Regions from separate parts of the Homo sapiens genome. Here region 2 is linked to region 1. Evidence: fine-mapped expression QTL. A gene starts in region 1. The other region holds a variant in brackets. All regions are shown on one strand. Distances are from middle to middle.

Region 1 (12,197 bases):
TCTGCTGGTTATGAGGGGCTCTTCCCCCTTCGCTCCTCACTGGATGTAACTACAGTAACAAAGGCTATTATTTAAACTTACTTGTCTCTATATTTTTAAGTGAAATAAATAGTTTATTAAATTTTTTCTTTCTCATAGACATGTGTGACAATTTACCTACACTAGATATTCCTAGAATATGCACATGACTGAAAGAGTTTTCTGATCAATTATATTCAAAATTTCCCATTGCCTAGGGAAGGCCAGGATGGAAGGGGTAGGAGGAATGGGAGACTGGTGCTATGTATCTATGATTGCATCCTGACAATCTTCAGCCACCCCTATTCTTTTTTTCCACTGGCCCTTAGTGCCTGGTAAGCCTGACTGGTTTCAGCCTAAGGTTAGGCAACAGGAGGAAGGTGACTGCAACCTTTTGCTTCTGCTATGACTTGGTTTCAGGTGTTGGATATGGAAGAGTGCTGGCCATGAGGATAATAGTTGGTGAAATTCATGGGCACTAGAGTATCCCTACAGTGGCCTGCTTGGGCAATGTTAGAGGACATCACAGGCTGTTGCAAGTTCTACCCATGGTGCCCAGTTCCCATGAGCCTTCGTCCATCTGGGTAGAGGTGGTGGATGGCTGGGCGAAAGGAGAAATAGTGGCTACTGATTTAAAACAAATGGACTATATGGAAAGAGCAATAAACCTGGGACCTGGGGAAGGAATACCTTAGTCTCCAGGAGGTGTGGGAAGGGGGGAAACATTTAATGCTTTCTTTGTCCCCTAGATGTAGCACTGCAGCATGGCAAAACAATCACATGGTCCACCTGAGTCAGGCGGCAGCTGCAATTGGCAACACAACGCTGCTGCTGGGTTTACCATCCCCATCCTCATGCTATAAAAACAGAACACTCATGTAGGTATGGCAGGATCTGAACTATTTCACTGTGCATGACACTCTCACAATAGCAGCACTGTTTAGCCATACCTGACACCCTCACAATAACATGACTATTTGGCTGTGCATGACACCTCAGCTCCTTCCTCATATGTGCACCAAGGCAACTTTGCTTCAATCTGACTGGTAAGAATTAACGCATGGAGCCCTCAGCCCTGGGTTCCATTAGCTATGGCACAACTCACTGTGCATATAGTCTCCATGCTCATCACAACACTCCGTGAGACTTGGAGGCACTGGAACCAGAGCTACCATGCTCATGCCCCTGCTATTTGCCCTGGTGTCTTACTCTGATTTCATTGTTTATTTTGAGCAGCTATGGATGGCAGGTTTACTCCTTGCCCCTTCCAGAGGTGAGGGGGCTCTTCTCCAACAAAGAGAACAAGGCAAGACAAGATTTTTATCTCTTAATGAAGAATATAATAATTCTAAATGGACTCCTTCCCTCCTCCTCGTTTCTATTTCTAGTAATGCCCTTCTTTTTCTTCTTCTTTTGTTCACCCATTAGAAAACATTTATTTAAAAGACACTGAATTTTAGCATAGCTAGAAAATTTTAAGATTATAAAATTGTATAAGTTTTTTTTAAGAGTTCCTCAGAAACATTCTTTTCAAGGCCTGAAACCAAAACTGTTAAAATATTTGACACTTTTATCTCTTTCATAGGCAATTATAATTGAAGTTTCCGTGTAGTTTTCTTTTTTATGTTAGACACTCTGTAAATTAGAAATTTTTAAATCTGAAAATGAATAGATATATATTAAAGGCTGTTCATTAGGAAAGAGAAAAGATCTGGGCCTTTAGTTGGCTCCCCATTTCCAGTCTTTTTTTTGAACTTTTATTATGTATATTCTGAAACACAGAAAAGAAGACTATAATGAACGCCCATGTATTCATCATCAGCTTTAACAACTGTCAACATTCTGCTAATCTTATTTCATGTAACTCCCCAACATTTTTTTCTGAAGCATTTTTAAAAAAATCCTGAGGCCAGGCATGGAGGCTCACACCTGTAATTCTAACACTTTGGGAGGCCAAGGTAGGAGGATTGCTTGAGGCCAGCTTGAGGCCAGGTGTTCAAGATCAGCTGGGGCAATATAGCAAGACCTCCTTTTTACAAAAAAAAAAAAAAATTAAAAATCAGCTGGGTGCAGTAATGTGTGCCTGTAGTCTCCGCTGAGGCAGGAAGATCACTTGAGCCCAGAAGATAGAGGTTGCAGTGAGCTATGATTGTGCCATGGCACTCCAGCCTAGGCAATAGAGTGAGACCCTGTCCCCTCTCCCCTCCACAAAAAAATCCTGACACTTTATTTCATGTAAATATATGTAAGTCAATGTTTGTTTGTTTGTTTGTTTGTTTAGACAGAGTCTTGCTCTTGTCACCCAGGCTGGGGTGCAATGGCACAATCTCGGCTCACTACAACCTCTGCCTCCTGGGTTCAGTCAATTCTCCTGCCTCAGCCTCCCAAGTAGCTGGGATTACAGGTGCCCACCACCACATCCGGCTAATTTTGTATTTTTTTTTAGTAGAGACGGGGTTTCTCCATGTTGGCCAGGCTGGTCTCGAACTCCTGACCTCCTGATCTGCCTGCCTTGACCTCCCAAAGTGCTGGAATTACAGGCGTGAGCCACTGCGCCCAGCCTGTAAGTCAATATTAATCCTACAAAAGTAAATGTAATACAAATAGAACTATAGCATATAAATGAAGAAATATTAGGTTGGTGCAAAAATATATTCATCCCATTCATTCATTAAAGCCAGGTAGCTAGGCACTATGGTAGGTGGGGAGATCAGAAAGATAGCCACATGAGGACAGAAGAAGAAAGTTCACAGGTTATTAGGTGAATAAGCAAATACAAGACTTACTGATCCTAAATGATGATGATCACTTACTGTTTGATCATCAAAGGATGAAGACCACTTACTATTTTAAGCCCTTTGCACATGTCAACTCATTAATTCTTCACAATCATCCTTTGAGGTAAGCAGTATTATTACAGATGAAGAAACTGAGATCACGCAAAGTAAAGTAACTTGCTGGAGAGCGTTCAGATAGTGTGTGGTAGAGCTAGGATTTGAATCTAAGCAGTCTGATTTCAGGGGCTGTGCTCTAAGGGGAAAAAAAGAGGAGACTACTTTAATATTGTGGTAAAAACAATGCTATCTGTTCATCATACTATTTCATTTCTTCCCTAAGCACACAAGAAGACCATATTTTCCAGGTCCCTAGCCTTTAAATGGGCTGTATGACTAATTCTGGCTAATGGAACATGGGTGGACACACACAAAAAAAATTCTCATATAGTGATGGCTTCCCAAGATGGAAGAAGCTTGGGTCTCCGAGTTACTACTTAGAGGACCATCCCCATCAGGTACATCTTTATTGAGATTCATGAGCATGAGAAATAAACTCTTACTCTGTTAAGTCACCAAGATTTTGGAGTTTGTAATGGTAGCTAGTGTAAATTATACTGATAGAAACATTTAAATTTAAATGTTTTAAAATTATGAAATATTTAAAAATATTGAAAAGTACAGAATATATTAACAATCAGATCTCTATCCCCTGATTTAATAGATATTAATATTGTCACATTTCCTTTATGTTTTTCTTCCAGAAATCCATTAGATAAAATAGCTAGTAACCAATAAAGCATCATCTTATCCTTTAGCCCTCCCTAGAAGTAACTACTATCCTGAAGGTGGTATATATCATCCCCATTTATATTTTTTACTTTTACTACACAATATACTAAATTATAGAGTATTATTTTGTGTGCTTTTCTTTTCTCTTTTTTTTTTTTTTGACATAAGGTCTTGCTCTATTGCCCAGGCTGGCATGCAGTGGTGTGATCTCAGCTCACTGCAACCTCTGCCTCCCAGGCTCCAGCAATCCTCCCACCTCAGCCTCCCGAGTAGCTGGGACCACAGGTGCATGCCATCACACCTAGCTAATTTCTTGCATTTTTTGTAGAGACAGAGTCTTGTTGTGTTGACCAGGCTGGTCTCGAACTCCTGGGCTCAGGTGATCTGCCCGCTTCGGCCTCCCAAAGTGCTGAGATTACAGGCATGAGCCACCGTGCCCGGCTTTTGTGTGCTTTTAAAATGGACACAAGTGGTATCAGAAAGATTGCTTTTCTTTATTCAGTATTGTTTTTAAGATGTATTCATGTCAGTTTACGTAGCTGTAATACATTTGAACAGTTACATAAAAATATATTTATTTATTTATTTATTTTTATTTTTGGGACAGAGTCTTGCTCTGTCACTCAGGCTGGAGTGCAGTGGCGGATCTCGGCTCACTGCAACTGCGCCTCCCGGGTTCAAGCAATTCTTGTGCCTCGGTCTCCCAAGCAGTTGGGATTACAGGCTTGCACCACCACGCTCAGCTAATTTGTTTTTGTTGTTGTTGTTGTTGTTGTTGTTTTTGTATTTTTAGTAGAGACGGAGTTTTCATCATGTTGGCCAGGCTGGTCTGGAACTCCTGGCCTCAAGCAATTAGCTGGCCTCAGCCTCCCAAAGTGCTGGGATTACAGGTATAAGCCACCATGCCTGGGCAAAAATATAGTTTACTTATCTATTCTCCTACTGAGAGACAGTTAAGATTGTTCATATTTTCTTGCTTCTACAAATAAAGCTGCAATGAAGTTCCTTGTACATGCCTAATGTAATATAGTCAGGAAAGCCTCTCTGAGGATTTTATCATTAAACTGATACTTGAAGGATGAGAAGCCAGCCAGGAAACAATATTTCAAGTATCTGCAACATAATGCAAGCTATCTTCAGTGGGAGGGAATGGCATGTACTATGTAGTGAAGTTACAGTGTAGTAAGGGAATAAGTGGCAGGAGATGGGGAGTTTATTGAAATTTCTGTGAGTTGAATAGGTATCTTTAAAAATGGAAAAGTACTATTTATCAAAAAGAATGTTCTAAAGAAAAATAAGGTGAAAATTCAGCAATAGGACTATGAAACTTACTGTGCTTGAATTATTGGAGACCAGAGAGGTAAAGTAAATGAAAGCTCCTGAGTGCAGTGATATCCCACCTCCCAACCAGATAGTGTTACCAAAATGCCAGGGGTTTGGTCTAGGTCCCATTGCTCCCTGCACAGAAAGCCAATCACTGAGACAACGACTGTTGCCAGGGAAGTAGTCATTCCATCTCTCTGACTGACTAAAATTGGGGGTTTATATAGTGGGAAAGGAATGTAACTACATGTGGGTAAACAGGAATTAGGGAGAGGTAAGGAAATCATGAAGGATGAGGGACCTGGCTTCTCATTGTCTAGATATGGTGACCTGGTTTCAGTTTCTTGAAACTATCTGGGAGGCATGAAGGTTATTTTCCCGAGGAAGGAACTCAGTTAAGACAAATATAAGTTTCAAGCTTTAAAACTGGAAGGGTCAATATCTATGTTTATTTTAGAAGACTGTAAACATCGGTTCTATGGGACAATTGGGCTGGTTTCAGTAACATAGCCACTTGGCAAACATAGGAAGGGCTAGTAAAATAAATTAATGGGGAAGGAAAGAAAATGTTAGCATGTTTGGCTGAGTTACTAAATAAATGACCCATATTCAAACCACTTTTGGAAAGTTTCCAATTTATCATTTTAAAGCTTACAGTACAATATTTGACACTATAGTATAGGTACATACTTCTTTCATTCACATTTTTCAGTTGTTCCCCTATTTGGTGATCACCTGATTCACACTTCAGATCGTTTCAGAACTAGCAGCATGATATTTTCTCAGCTCTTAAATTGACTTAAATGCTTCAGATGTTTCATGAGATTAATCTGATTTTAACAAAAGGAACAAAAAATATTGAAAACATGGAGAAAAAGGGGAATTTCCTTTAAAGCTCTTTTGATGGAAAAATGAAATTATGATACATATGGTTTCATTTAATGTACAGCTGCCCCTCAGACTCAAAAGGGTTGAAAAGGAATTGAAAAGTAATTTTTTTCATTATTTTGATAAGATTTGCAATCACTTCTATCCAAAAGCAAGAGCAGAAACTGCATTCATTCAACAGATGCGGCATTCATAGTGAAGTCGAGAGGAGGAACCATGGGCATGGTCTGACCAACCTAGAAAAAAATGAGAACATTGTAATGGCTTTGCATTTAGAATAAAACCCAAACTTCTTACTGTGGCCTCTAAAGCCATTAGCAGAGTAGCCTTTGCCTGCCTCTCTATGCAAATTAAAACCACACAATTAATTTGTGTAGGGAGCAAACAAATTTTGTTAGAATGTCTATAATCAAAAAGATGAAAGATAACAAGTGTTGGTGAAGGTGTGGAGAAAAAGGAACCCTTGTACACTATTGATGTGAATGTAAATTTGTAGTACACCCATTTTGGAAAACAGTATGGAGGTTCCTTAAGAAACTAAAAATAGAATTACTACAGGATGCAGCAATCTTACTTCTGGGTATATATCCAAAGGAACTGAAATCAGTATGTTGAAGAGATATCTGCACTCCCATGTTCATTGCACCATTATTCATAATAGCTAAGATGCGGAATCAAAGTGTCCATCAACCAATGAATGAATTAAAAAATGTGGTATAAATATACAACAGAATACTATTCAGCCTTAAAAAAGAATGAAATTCAGGCCGGGCATGGTGGCTCATGCCTGTAATCCCAGCACTTTGGGAGGCCAAGGTGGGTGGATCACCTGAGGTCAGGAGTTTGAGACCAGCCTGGCCAACATGGCGAAACCCCATCTCTACTAAAAATATAAAAATTTAAAAAAAATTAGCTGGGCGTGGTGGCACGTGCCTGTAATCCCAGCTACTCAGGAGGCTGAGGCAGGAGAATCGCTTGAACTTGGGACGCGAGGTTGTAGTGAGCCAAGATCGCGTCACTGCATTCCAGCCTGGGCGACAGAGCGAGACTCTGTCTCAAAAAAAAAAAAAAAAAAAAAAAGTAAAGAGTAGAATGGTGGTTACCACCAGAGGCCGGGTAGGACAGTGGGTGGAGAAAGGGGAAATATTAGTCAAAGGGTACAAAGTTTCAGTTAGATAGGCGGAATAAGTTCTGGTGATCTATTGCACAGCAATGTGACTACAATTAGCAATAACCTTTTGTATCTTCCAAAGTTGCTAAAAGTGGATTTTAAATGTTCTCACCAAAAGAAGTAAGTATGTATATCATTTGATAGATGTTAATAGCCTGATTTGCTCATTCCACAATGGTTACATGTTTCAAAACATCACATTGTATGCCATAAGTATATACTATCAATTAAAAATAAAAATAATATTTAAAAATAAGGTAGCTGCCTTCCAGCAACTGTATCTGTAAGGGGTATAAATAATCCCAATGCATTTTAATAACTAGCACAATGATATTCTGTTTCAATGTGCTTTAGGACCACCAAGGGAGGGAACAAGTGAGCTTACACCTTCAGAAGCAGATGAACCGCTTTCAACAATGATAAAGAATTACCCAAGTGATGACAGTAAGAATATTCTAACCTTAGGGAACATCATGAACATCTCTTACACCAAGAGGAGATGAAACTGCAAAAAGATGTTTGAAAGGGGTCGCAGCAACGAATGCTTCTAATAGTGAATCTCTACGTTAGGGCATGTTAGAATCACCTTAGGAAAGTTCAAAAATTCCCCAAGCCCAGACCTCAAGCCAGACCAATTAAATCTGAATCTACAGGGGTGGAACCCATATATCTAAGTATTTTTTTAAAAAACAGCTCCTCAGATAATTGCAAAGTGCAGCCAAGGTTGAGAATCGCTGTTTTAAAGCAGGTACAAAAAATTAAACGTGGACTTTGATGGGGGGGACGGGAGTGTCGGTAGGCATGGATGAACTGAAAAGCCCTTCAGAATAGAGCGGTGACTGCAAGAGCAAGGACAAAAACTATATGAGAGCCCGTGGCAGGGGATTTAAGGGCCGTTTTTGTGTGGGACTGACAGGATTTGGGGGATGGTGACGACCTCAGCATACACCCGACTCTATTAAAATTGAGTTACTCTGCCAGCGGCCCTGTCTCTACCCGCAATCATATTTTCTAGCACCTTTTCCCACAGTTTGGAAAAAAAAAAAAAGGGGCGAAAACGTTCTCCCACGTAACGCGCCGTGGACGTGTATGGGAGGAGCAAAGGCCTGAGAATCACAAGCGCGCGGCCGCTCCCATTTCTTCGCGATTCCAGAACCAGAATTCACGAACATTTAGAGGAGGCCTCCCCTGGCTGTGTTTGTGCCCCACTTAGGAAGCGATGGTGGATTTCTCTGGGCAAATTGTCGCCTTTACAACGCCAGGGGGCGGAGGCGGGAGGGAGAGCGGCGAGGGTAAGGGCGGGGCAACTGCTGACGTTCCCGGTGACGACTCCGGCTCAGCCCTCACCCTGGTTTCCGGCGGCGCGCGGCTCCCTTTTCCGCTCTCCCGCGCGCTCACAGGTACCGCCTCACTCCCACGCGCCCCCCAGCGCTGCGGTGCTAGACAGCTGAGAGAACAGACACAGACCTGTCGGAAGGTCCTCTGCAGGTCCCCCTTCCGCTCTGCCGATCGACTTCCGCCTCGGGCAGTCAACATGTACGTTGCGGCTGTCTGGCGAAGCTGCTTCTGAGCGTTTGCGGAGGCGCAGCTTCCCCTCTGCGGGGCCGCCCTGCTTCCCCCCCATCCCCGCCTCCCCCCGCCCCTCGCTCCTGTCCCTGGGGTCGGCGGACTTCTCGCTACATGGGGGCGGGCTTCCGCGGTCGGCGCACGGCTTCCTGTTCTGAGGCGGCCCGGCGGTAGGCGGTGGCGACTCTGCCCGCTCCCGTTTCGGCGCGGTGACCGAGCGCCCGGGAGGCTCGAGGACCGCATCGTGTGCCGTTGCGCCAAGCCCGGTCCTGCGCCGCCATGGCCCCAGTGCAGCTGGAGAACCACCAGCTGGTCCCGCCCGGAGGCGGCGGCGGGGGCAGCGGCGGACCCCCGTCAGCCCCAGCCCCTCCTCCCCCGGGAGCCGCCGTGGCGGCGGCCGCTGCAGCTGCGGCTAGCCCGGGCTACCGGCTGAGCACCCTCATTGAATTTCTGCTGCACCGGGCCTACTCGGAGCTTATGGTGTTGACGGACCTGTAAGTGCCCCGAAACCCCTGCCTGTTCCCCAGCCCCCCTTCCCGCCCAACCGGCTGAGACGTTTGCACCTCCCTCTCCCCGAGAGGCTGCTGTGTTCTCCGCTGGACTGCTTAGTCTAGAATTTTTGAACTCCTGGGGTTCAGCAGAGGTGGAGAAGAAGCTTTGTATCTGGGGTCTTCCTGGCAACGATGCAACAGAGACTTGTTAATTTTGCGTGTTGTTACACTTCCACTGAAAATTGTGTGAAATTTTTGTCCGAGTTCCCAACAGAACTCTCTTGATTTCTTGGCTGGAATACATAATATTCGAGCTTTTAGAAAAAACTCTATAGATGGGAAATTTGTATTACAGCCTCTTGACGATACGTTTTAAATGTAAGCTGTTATTGCTTCTAAGTTAATGCAGGAGCTACATACGTTGTGTATAAAATACAAATTTGAATTCAAAGTACTTTTTTTCTGGAACTTTTGAGTGTTTGAGGTCTTAATGAAGTTAGTGTGAGTAAAATTTTTTTGTAAGTAGTCTGTTATTTCTTGGAGTATGAAGGGGGTTTATAAATCACCTAGTTACCCATGAAATGCCTTGGGGCATGATTAAGTTGTTAATCCCTTCAGAATAGGATCAGAATATACTAACGAATTTCAGTGTGTGAAGAAAAGGCACCGTAACATTTTGGGACTCTGTTGTACATCTTATAACCCAGGTTCAGAAAAAGTTAATCAGAATTTTATTTTTTATCTATTGCAAGACTTCAGATCAGGGTTATCAATTGAGATACATTAGTATGCAGATATTAGGCTCTAAAGCGTCACAGTAATTTGTTTTTAGAGACTGATAACAGATACTTGTTTGCAGATGACTGAAAGAGTAGGCTCTACTTAACTCCTGTAAAACGTCATTCTCAGTTTTGATGTATTGTACTTTTTTGAATGGGACAGAAAAAAGTAGTGTTAAAGAAGCCTACCCATGGCTAATGAGAAATTTAAATCGCTGTCAGGTTTAGGGACTATTATAATGATATACCTCTCTGCACCATTTATTGTTGGATTTCATAAAAATCCAAGAATATCCATGAGAAAGTTTCATGTATGTGCCTATATAGAGCTGTGGGAAAAAAAATGTTGAAAACTGCTGCTATCGGTGGTGTAATTTGCTTTTCCATAGGGGATTTGTAGAAATTCCTTGAATTGTGGTTGTCTTTTTACTATTTTAGGACTTGGCTTATGAAGAGAGGAACATCTGTTTTATTGCCGTAGAATAAGTATGTAGTTATAGTCCCACACCCTTTATGTGATGGTTCCCATATTTGTATCTCCAGCACAGACCTCTCTGATGAACTCCAGACTCTATATCCAGATGCCTACATTTCAGTATCTTGATGGGCATTTCAACATAGCAACTCCAGCACCAAACTCCTGATTCCACTGTCCTCCCTCCTGCAGAACCTTCTTTGCTATCTCACTAGTCTCTCCATTCTTCCTGTTGTTGCTCAGGCCAAATATTTTGGAATAACTCCTGGCTCCTCTCTCTTCACATCCTACATACATCAGCAAGTCCTGTTATCTTTGACTTCAGAGTCTGACCATTTCTCAACACTTCCACCAAGTGCTGGTCCAAGCCACCTAATCCTTCACCTGTGTACTGCAATAGTCAGTTCACTGGTATCTCTGTAGTTCCCTTGCCCCTTCTATAGTTTCTTCTCCACAAAATAGCCAGGATGATTCTTTTAAAATTTCTCTGCTTAGAACCCTTCGATGGTTCCCCATCTCACTGAGATTAAAAAGTGTTGATAATTGCCAGGTGTGGTGGCTTATACCTGTAATCCCAGCACTTTGGGAGGCTGAGGCAGGGGAGGGGGTCACTTGAGCCCAGGAGTTCGAGACTCTGTCTCTACCAAAAATAGAAAATTAGCTGGGTGTGGTGGCCCAAGCCTGTAGTTCCAGCTACTTGGAAGGTGGAGGTGGGAGGATTGCTTGGGCCCAGGAGGTTCGCTTGAGCCCAGGAGGTTGAGGCTGCAGTGAGCATGTTCGCACCACTGCACTCCAGACTGGGTGACAGTGAGATCCTATCTCAAAAAAAAAAAAAAAAATATTGATAATCATCTGTATAGTGACCATAAAATTTATAGTCCAAACCGGGACACTTTTGAGCATAATGGGGCTGATGATAATAATGTCAGAACAAGAGGCATAAACCAGGACTGTCTTGGGCAAACCAGAAAACCAGAACATGTGGTCATCTTACCTTTAAGGCCTTACATGATGTGCCTTCTCTGTTCCTTAACCTTTTTTTTTTCTCCAACCTCTTAACCACTTTTGGTTTGTCCCTTACCTCTTTAACTGCATGTCCTGAAACTCTCCTCTTTGCTTATCCTGTTCCGACCACATTACCCTTCCTGATGTTTCTTTTTTATTTTTGAGACAGGGTCTCACTCTGTTGCCCAGGCTGGAGTGCAGTGTGGCACAGTCATGCTCACTGCAGCCTCTCGACATGGGCTCAACTGCTCCTCCTGCCTCAGCCTCCCAAATAGCTGGAACTACAGGCATGCGCCACCACGCCCAGCTAATTTTTTTATTTTTGGTAGAGACAAGAGTCTCACTATGTTGCCCAGGCTGATCTTGAACTCCTGGGCTTAAGCAGTCCTCCCACCTCTGCCTCCCAAACCTTTTTTTTTTTTTGAGACAGAGTCTCACGGTGTTGCCCAGGCTGGAGTGCAGTGGTGTGATCTCGGCTTGCTGCAGCCTCCGCCTCCCGGGTTCAAGTGATTCTTGTGCCTCAGCCTCCCGAGTAGCTGCGATTACAGGCATGCACCACCACACCTGGTTAATTTTTGTATTTTTAGTAGAAATGGGATTTCACCATGCTGACCAGGCTGGTCTCAAACTCCCAACTTCAGGTGATCTACCCGCCTTGGCCTTCCAAAATGCTGGGATTACAGGCGTGAGCCGCTGTGCCCAGCCTCCAAACCTTCTTGATGTTTCTTGTTAGTGCCTAGCACACTGCCATCTTAGAGCCTTTGCTTTTTCCCTAGAAATCTGTGTGAATTGCTTTCTCATTAGTCCTTTAGGTCCTTGTTTACATACAATTTATCAGAAAGATTTTCTCTGACCACCTATAAAATAGTACTCTGCCCCTTCACTCTGTCCTTCTTACTTGCTGCTTTATTTTTC
Region 2 (8,000 bases), 27 kb after region 1:
GAGACAGGGTTTCATCATGTTAGCCAGAATGGTCTCAATCTCCTGACCTCGTGACCTGCCCACCTTGGCCTCCCAAAGTGCTGGGATTACAGACCTGAGCCACCGCACCCAGCCCAGGCCAATGTCTTAGAGCATTTTTCCAATGCTTTCTTCTAGTAGTTTCATAGTCTCAGGTCTCATGCTTAAGCCTTTAATTCATTTTCAGTTCATTTTTGTATAGTGTGAGAGATGGGGGTCTAGTTTCATTCTTTTGCATATGATGGTTATCGAGTTTTCCCATCACCATTTATTAAAGAAACTGTCCTTTCCCCAGTGTATGTTCTTGGTGCTTTTTTGGAAAATGAGTTGGCTATGTGTGGATTTCTGTGTTCTCTATTTTGCATTATCTCTTAATACAGAGAACAACTTTATGAGATTGGGAATCATGATCACCTCCATTTTACAGTTGAAAAAAGCTGAGGCACAAAGAGGTTAAGTTACTTGCCCAAGGTTACAAGACTGGTAAGTAGCAGAGTTAAAATGGAGAACAAGGCAGTCTAGGTCTAGGAGTCCATGCTTTTAACTCCTTCATTACCAACCAACTCTGGAAGTCTGTAAGAGGAAAAAACCATTTTATTCTACTTATTTTTCCTAACTTTGATATTATGTGTGTGTAATGTTAAGGATGGAGAAATGAATTAGAAAGCTTTTACTTAAAGTGACAGAAAATTATTGCTCTTAATATCAAATACTAGTGTATTAAATATTTCTTCTTCAAGTTACTGGAGAATATTTGAAGAACTACTTTGAAATATGGAAAACTGATACTAATTCCCCTTGAAGTTTACTTTGGAATGATTTAACAATATTTAGTGTGAAAAGGAGATAGTTTTCAGGGATGCTTAATACATTTACCCTTTACTTTAAAGATGATTTCAAGCTTTTTAGATCAGCAAGCCATCCTGTTTGTGGACACTGCTGATCGCCTGGCCTCGTTAGCTAGAGATGCTCTGGTCCATGCACGCCTGCCTAGTTTTGCCATCCCATATGCCATTGATGTACTAACTACTGGATCTTACCCACGGCTGCCAACCTGCATTAGGGTAAGTTCTTTGCTTGCCCCCATGTTCCTAAAAACTAAAGGTTTTGGCACTGGATTGGATTGTATTATTAAGTAGCCCAGCAAAAAACATTGTTAAAACAAACAGTACATATAGTTTGCTTTTTTTCTCTGTAACTAAAGTTGTGCTTTTTTGAAATAAGTTGGGGCCAGATGTGAGTAGATATCAAAATGGGTGAAGGTTTTATTTTTTTTTCCCCCAGGGATGCGCGGATGTGCAGACATAACATCTATTTCAGATGTGAAAATGCTACATGCTAGTTGCTTTTTGAAAGTGTTTTAAACTTTTATTGTTTTGGTAGTTTACTGACTTGGTGCCATATTGTATTTTATACTTGTAAGAACTTGTGGAAGCTATCAAGTGATATTTAGTTGGTTTATAAATAGAGCATTAAGGGAGGTCATGTTGTATTATGATCTTAGCTAAATGACTAGAATCATTGTTGCTCTTATGCATGATAGTAATGGCCATTGTTTTTGTAAGTAGACTGCAGAAATGAGTGTTAAGATTCTCTTAGGTAAAGTACGCAACACTGTATAAAGACAGGAAAAGATTGAAAAAAAAAATCCCCGTTTGTACATTATTTAAAAATCACTTAAATTTTTTTGCAGGACAAAATTATTCCTCCAGACCCAATTACCAAAATTGAAAAACAAGCCACACTCCATCAGCTGAATCAGATTCTTAGACATCGGCTTGTAACCACAGATCTTCCTCCTCAGTTAGCAAATCTTACAGTTGGTATGTATCTGAAATTTATTTTTTTAAGAGTTGATGGCCAGGTGCGGTGGCTCATGCCTGTAATCTCAGCACTTTGGGAGACTGAGGCAGGCAGATCACTTGAGGTCAGGAGTTTGAGACCAGCCTGGCCAACATGGTGAAACCCCATCTCTACTAAAAATACAAAAATTAGCTGGGTGCGGTGGCCCGCACCTGTAATCCCAGCTATTCGGGTGGCTGAGGCATGAGAATTGCTTGAACCTGGGAGGCAGAGGTTGCAGTGAGCCAAGATTGCACCACTGTACTCCAGCCTGGGTGACAGAATTTGCATGTTAGAATATTTTCCTAAACAGCTTTTTGGGTTTTATTCAAGGAAAAATAGCATCATGAAGATTTGACTGACAGTTTTATGGTGTTTGATTCTACGACTTGCCAGCTGTATCATTTCTCTTTAGTACCTAGAAATACAGTGCTGGTATTTGCAGCTTGGGAGTGGGGCTGGAAAGAGAGAAGAGTCCCCAGAGTTGTGCCTCAAGAAAATATTGTTCATTTATGTTAGAAGAGTTGCCTTTCATTTCTTGACCTGGAAGCTGGCTACTTCTTATTCAGGAACCATTGAATTGTTGGAACCTTATGAAAGAACCTTCAATCTATTTAAAAATTTTTATAAGTAAGACTGAAAATTCTAGGTCAGGAGGAAGATTCTCATTTTCTAGCAAAGTACACTTCTTTTTCTTCATCTTTTTCTTCTAAAAGCAAATGGCCGGGTGAAGTTTCGTGTTGAAGGAGAATTTGAAGCCACCTTGACTGTGATGGGAGATGACCCTGATGTTCCATGGCGTCTTCTCAAGCTAGAAATTCTAGTTGAGGATAAGGAAACAGGAGGTAAATCATAAGTAGTGATTTAAATCATAAGTATTAGTTTAAATGTTTGATTTTTTATATTATTGAAATATTCCCGGCTGGGGATGATGGCTCATGCTTGTAATCCCACTACTTTGGGAGGCCAAGGCAGGTGGATCGCTTGAGCTCAGGAGTTTGAGACCAGCCTAGACAATATAGCAAGACCCTGTCTCTACAAAAAATTTAAAAATTAGCCGGGCGTGGTGGTGTGTTCCTGTAGTCCCAGCTACTTGGGAGGCTGGGGTTGGGAGGTGGGAGGATCACCTGAGCCCAGGGAGGTTGAGGCTGCAATGAGCCATGATCATGCCACTGCACTCTAGCCTGGGTGACAGAGCAAGATCCTGTCTCTCTATATATATATTCCTGCAAAATAATAAATGCATGCAGCAATTTATCCTGTAATTTGAAGCAAGTTTTATAATTGTAACTGCCTGTTGACCGTGGAAGTTTCAGTGTTTCTCAGAGTACAATGTCAAGTTTCTGTAGATAATTTCAGTGCTTTTTAAAAAAATTCATTGTTATTATGTGCTTCCTTAGTTGGTATAGTGACACACTTGTACACCTATTTAATTAACTGCTTTCTTTTCTTCTGCCAACGGAAGATGGGCGAGCTTTGGTTCATAGCATGCAAATCAGCTTCATCCATCAACTGGTGCAGTCTAGGCTCTTTGCTGATGAGAAACCTCTTCAGGATATGTACAACTGCCTACGTATCCTTCTGAAATTTGAGACATATATTTGTAAGGATTTTGTGGTACCTCTCCCACATTTTTCATTTGTCCTTAGTCTTGAACTGTAGCAGCCTACATTCCTTGCCCCCATCTCCCCCACCCTTTTTGAGGTGCAGATAGGGCTGGAGAATAGTGAAGAATAGTGATATGTTTGTAATAAACCAAATTTAAAATTTTACTGTTGACTTTGCAGGTAAAAGCAAAAAGTGATTAGTTAAAAATAGTCTTGTTTGAGGCTGGGCACGGTGGCTCATGCTTGTAATCCCAGCACTTTGGGAGGCTGAGGCGGGTGTATCACTTGAGGTCAGGAATTCAAGACCTGCCTGGCCACCATGGTGAAACCCTGTCTCTACTAAAAATCCAAAAAAAAAAAAAGAAGCCTGGTGTGGTGGCGGGCACCTGTAATCCCAGCTACTAGGGAGCCTGAGACAGGAGAATCGCTTGAACCCAGGAAGCAGAGGTTGCAGTGAGCCGAGATCATGCCACTGCACTCCAGCCTGGATGACAGAGCAAGACTCCGTCACACACACACACAAAATAATAATAATAAAAAAGTACTGTTTGGTGAAAAAAATAGTACTATTTGGTCAATCCATGTTCTCTAAACTATGATGAATTAAGACACAACCCAGACTTTATGGTTTTATATTGGTTTAAAATTAAATATAAAACCTTTTTCTGAAATTATGCTATAAATTATAATACTTTTTACGATGAGGCATTGGAGAAATAATCATTTCAGAAATTTTCTTCAGAAATTTTTCTCCAGGTTTTCAATAAGAGAACCTTCCTTAAATGAAGTTCTCCTGGACTTGATTGACTGTTGGTGTAATGTATTAATTTTACTTAACAACATCTATCAGATTCTTTCTGTTTATCACTTCAGTTAGAAGTGTTACATTCCCAAACTCTAATGTTAATCCGAGAACGGTGGGGAGACCTTGTGCAGGTGGAAAGGTATCATGCTGGAAAGTGCCTCTCCCTTTCAGTTTGGAAGTAAGTAAAATCAGTTCTGGTGGGTTCGTGCTATGACTGTAAATACTCTTTTTATTTCTCTTTTTCTCTCATACATCTGATTTAATAT[A/G]CAGTTGACCCTTGGACAACACAAGCTTGAATTGTGTGGGTCCACTTATATGCAGATCAATTTGCAAGATGTGAAACCTGCGTATAGGGCCAACCTTCCCTATACGTGGGTTCTGCTGGCTGACCGCAGGACTGACTGCAGGACGTGAGTTTGCGTGGATTTTGGTATTGGGACGGGAATCCTGGAGCCAGTCTCCCAAGTATACCAAGGAATGACTGTATACCAATAGCTATGCACCTCTAGTAACATGCTTTTGTGTAGTAAGGTCCCATAGTATTATGTAGACCACATAGGACATCCATAGTTGACACCTGTCTTAGAACATGTTTTAAATACATAGACATTTACCTGTTTGTACTAAGACTTACTATTCTTAAAAAGTTTGAGAGGTTAGTTTACTTTGGGTTTATACCAAATAGCTAAAAGACCGTTAGGTTAGAAAAGACCATTAGGTTAGATTGTTGGGTATCATTTTTTAAAACATGCATGCTTATCACAGTTTTCCACTTTGAATTGTGCCTGTTAAAAACTTTCTTTGGGAGAAAATTCCTATTGGACTGTTTGTAACTCTCAATTCCCTGTTTGAACTTTACTTGATTCCTGTTTTTCTCCCCACCCCGGCATCTTATTATCCCAAATGACCCCCATTTTCTGTAAAGGAGTCAGAGGTGAGTAGATACTACTTAGAAGACAGGTAGTTTTTGTTTTGGGGTTCTTTTTCATGTGTGCATATGTTTTATTTTTAAATTATATGTCTTTTTTAAATGCAATAAATCAAATATTGTATTGGATTACAGAATAGCTATCTTCCCATTATTATTCCCTCCACAAACACTGGGGGCCTGCCGTATTCCAGGCTGTGGCTAAACTGCACAATGGATTGTCTCTATTTTATTCTAGAAGTTAACAGACTGTGTTGAAAAAAATTCTTCATTTCATTTTTTTCTTTAGTCAACAGGTTCTTGGGAGAAAAACTGGAACAGCATCTGTTCACAAAGTTACAATTAAAATTGATGAGAATGATGTCTCCAAGCCTTTACAGATTTTTCACGATCCTCCTTTGCCAGCTTCTGATTCCAAATTAGTAGAAAGAGCCATGAAGGTAAAAGATCTCAATATATTTTCATATTGGTTTAAATGAATGTAACTTGCCATTTATCCTTAAACTCTTAGCACAAATTTTTAAAAATATCTAATTCTTCCTAAAACCTTTTATGAAACTTATTTTAAGTAAATGTTACACTTCTTACATTTGTTTTTTTAAAACATCTGATACTATAATATATAATTTTTAAGATATTCTTTCATATTTTATAATTTAGATCAGATACCATTTTAATTTTAAGGTCTGGCATTAGAGCACCATAACTGATTTGTAATATCTTCTCCTATTACTTACCAAAATGTTAACTATAGTTTTTAAGCTATCAATTGTAAGTTAATTTTTAACTCAATACCATATTAGTTAATTTTTAACTTTAAGTTTGCTTTCTATTAGGGTTAACACTTAATCAGTGTGATTCCAAAAGGAAATATTTTGAAGCACAGTAATCTACTCTTGGGCTTTTAAAGTAAAAATGTTTAAATTGCACATTTGAATTTGTTGTTCTTATTTATGCAGATCGACCACTTATCAATAGAAAAACTCCTGATTGACAGTGTCCATGCAAGAGCTCATCAGAAGCTCCAAGAACTGAAGGCCATTCTTAGAGGCTTCAATGCCAATGAAAACTGTAGGTTCTTTTAAATTGACATTTGTTTTTCTTTTGTTTAAACTAGAATCCAGTTTTATTTGATGAGAATCTTAATATGACTTTTTCTTGATATTTTGCTTTTATTGTGGAAGCTGGTATTTCTGCATTTTAACTTGTGATCTGCCAAACTTATGCTAATTTTTCCCTTGTTACTTATTTAGCTTGGCCTTATTTTTGAAATATTTGTGTATTGGATTTCCTTAAAACTTTATGAAATGGGGCTGGGCATGGTGGCTCACACCTGTAATACCAGCACTTTGGGAGGCCGAGATGTAAGGATCACTTGAGGCCAGGAGCTTTAGACAAGCCAGGGCAAAAAATGAGACCCCGTCTCTATTTATAAAATTTTTTAAATAAAAAAGAAAAACTTTATGAAACATGAGCTAACATTTTAATATGAACCTTATTTTTAAACTTTTTTCTAGTGATAAAACAGCATTCCAAATATTTATAATATACTTGTAAAATATGCCCCTTTGAGTGAAGCAGAATTCATCCCTTGTCTTTTTAAAAAATTTTTAAAAATTATTAACAGTTCAAATAAGGAATGCAGATACATGGACATAGTGAAAAATCTTCCAAGTTTAATTACCTAGTAAGTATATTCAGAGCTTTGAGGGACAGTCATTTAGAAAGTAAACCCTTTCATTCTGGGAATATAGGTTCGCAACATCATAATGGGCATATTTACTATCCCTGCCCCAATTGTTTTTGGCCATAATTACCTTGTGCCCACAGTGCACAGTCTTTAATTAAGTTAGATGACGTAAGTGAAGTGCCTTATAAGTAGGAAGTCTTAATAGTGCTAGTAACGAAGGTGCTGCCTTTTGTCATCACAGAGCTCAGCTCAATCCATTATACTTAAAGAAGCAGCTTCTTAGGTATGTACTAGTAACTCTGGATTAAAATCACTTTGACAGAAATAGATTTTAAAAAATTGCCTGAAGGAAAGACAGAAAGTTAGAAAAATAAGTGTGTATTTAGAATACATACTCATTCAAGGAAAGTGAAAAGATAGAGGTGAAAGAGGGGATCTAAGATAAACCAAAGCATTAGCTTATATTTTTAAAGAGACTAAGGAGAGGGGCAGCCTAACTTAACAAAAATGCAAATATGGGCCTTAAAAAAGAAATAAAGGATCTGCCAGAAATTTGGTGAATGTATTGGTTAGATGTGTCTTGGGGGTGCCTGTCCATTAGCCCTATCAGGGTTTAACATTAGCTTTATCAGTACTTCATTATCTTAATTTAATTAAAAGCTTCAGTAGAAGGCCCTCCCCTTTAATCCCTCAAGCAAAGATGTTAAATACAGACCTAAAAATTATGATTGGAAAGTATAATTGAAACTCTCACTGGAATTAGAAAGGCTACTAACCACCACTGCCTTTTCGTCTTTTTTTCTTAACAGCTTTATTGAGATATAATTCACATATAATTACCTCATTCAATGGTTTTTACTGAAAGAGTTGTGCAACTATCACCACAATTTGATTTTAGAACATTTTAATCATCCCAGAAAGAAACCGTGTACCCATTAGCAGTCACAACCCATTCACTCCTCTCCCTTCCTGCCTCCCTTTTGGCAATCATTAATCTACTTTCTAACTCTATAGATTTGCCTATTTGGACATTTCATATAAATGGAATCATAATGTGTGGTCTCTTACATACTGTTTTTAACACATTTTTTTTGAGGTTCACAGCATGTT

Alleles and levels. Positions count from the first base shown, and alleles are read on the strand shown. Sizes are in standard deviations (SD) of each study's normalised expression.
For the expression in cerebellum of the gene that starts at base 8,682 in region 1, A is the low allele of the variant in region 2 and G is the other (large effect, 0.83 SD a copy in GTEx).

Evidence for each region.
Region 2: its variant is fine-mapped to the expression of MED14 in cerebellum (GTEx, PIP above 0.99). The same link has a PIP of 0.9 or more in cerebellar hemisphere.

The regions. Positions count from the first base shown.
Region 1 is chrX:40,732,027-40,744,223 of GRCh38, reverse strand. It overlaps MED14 (mediator complex subunit 14), which reads left to right and starts at 8,682. Exons shown (of 31, transcript NM_004229.4): 1 at 8,682-9,026. The coding sequence starts at 8,812. It overlaps MED14OS (MED14 opposite strand), which reads right to left and starts at 8,534. Exons shown (of 2, transcript NR_169211.1): 1 at 8,434-8,534; 2 at 5,526-6,031. RefSeq lists enhancers at 7,470-8,390, 8,391-9,312 and silencers at 8,345-8,434, 8,695-9,074.
Region 2 is chrX:40,707,619-40,715,618 of GRCh38, reverse strand. MED14 (mediator complex subunit 14) reads left to right here. Exons shown (of 31, transcript NM_004229.4): 4 at 909-1,082; 5 at 1,712-1,841; 6 at 2,577-2,705; 7 at 3,326-3,433; 8 at 4,318-4,450; 9 at 5,490-5,640; 10 at 6,160-6,271. Among named protein-coding and RNA genes, the nearest start is that of MED14, 24 kb to the left of the region's middle. The variant A/G (reference allele first, on the strand shown) is at 4,539.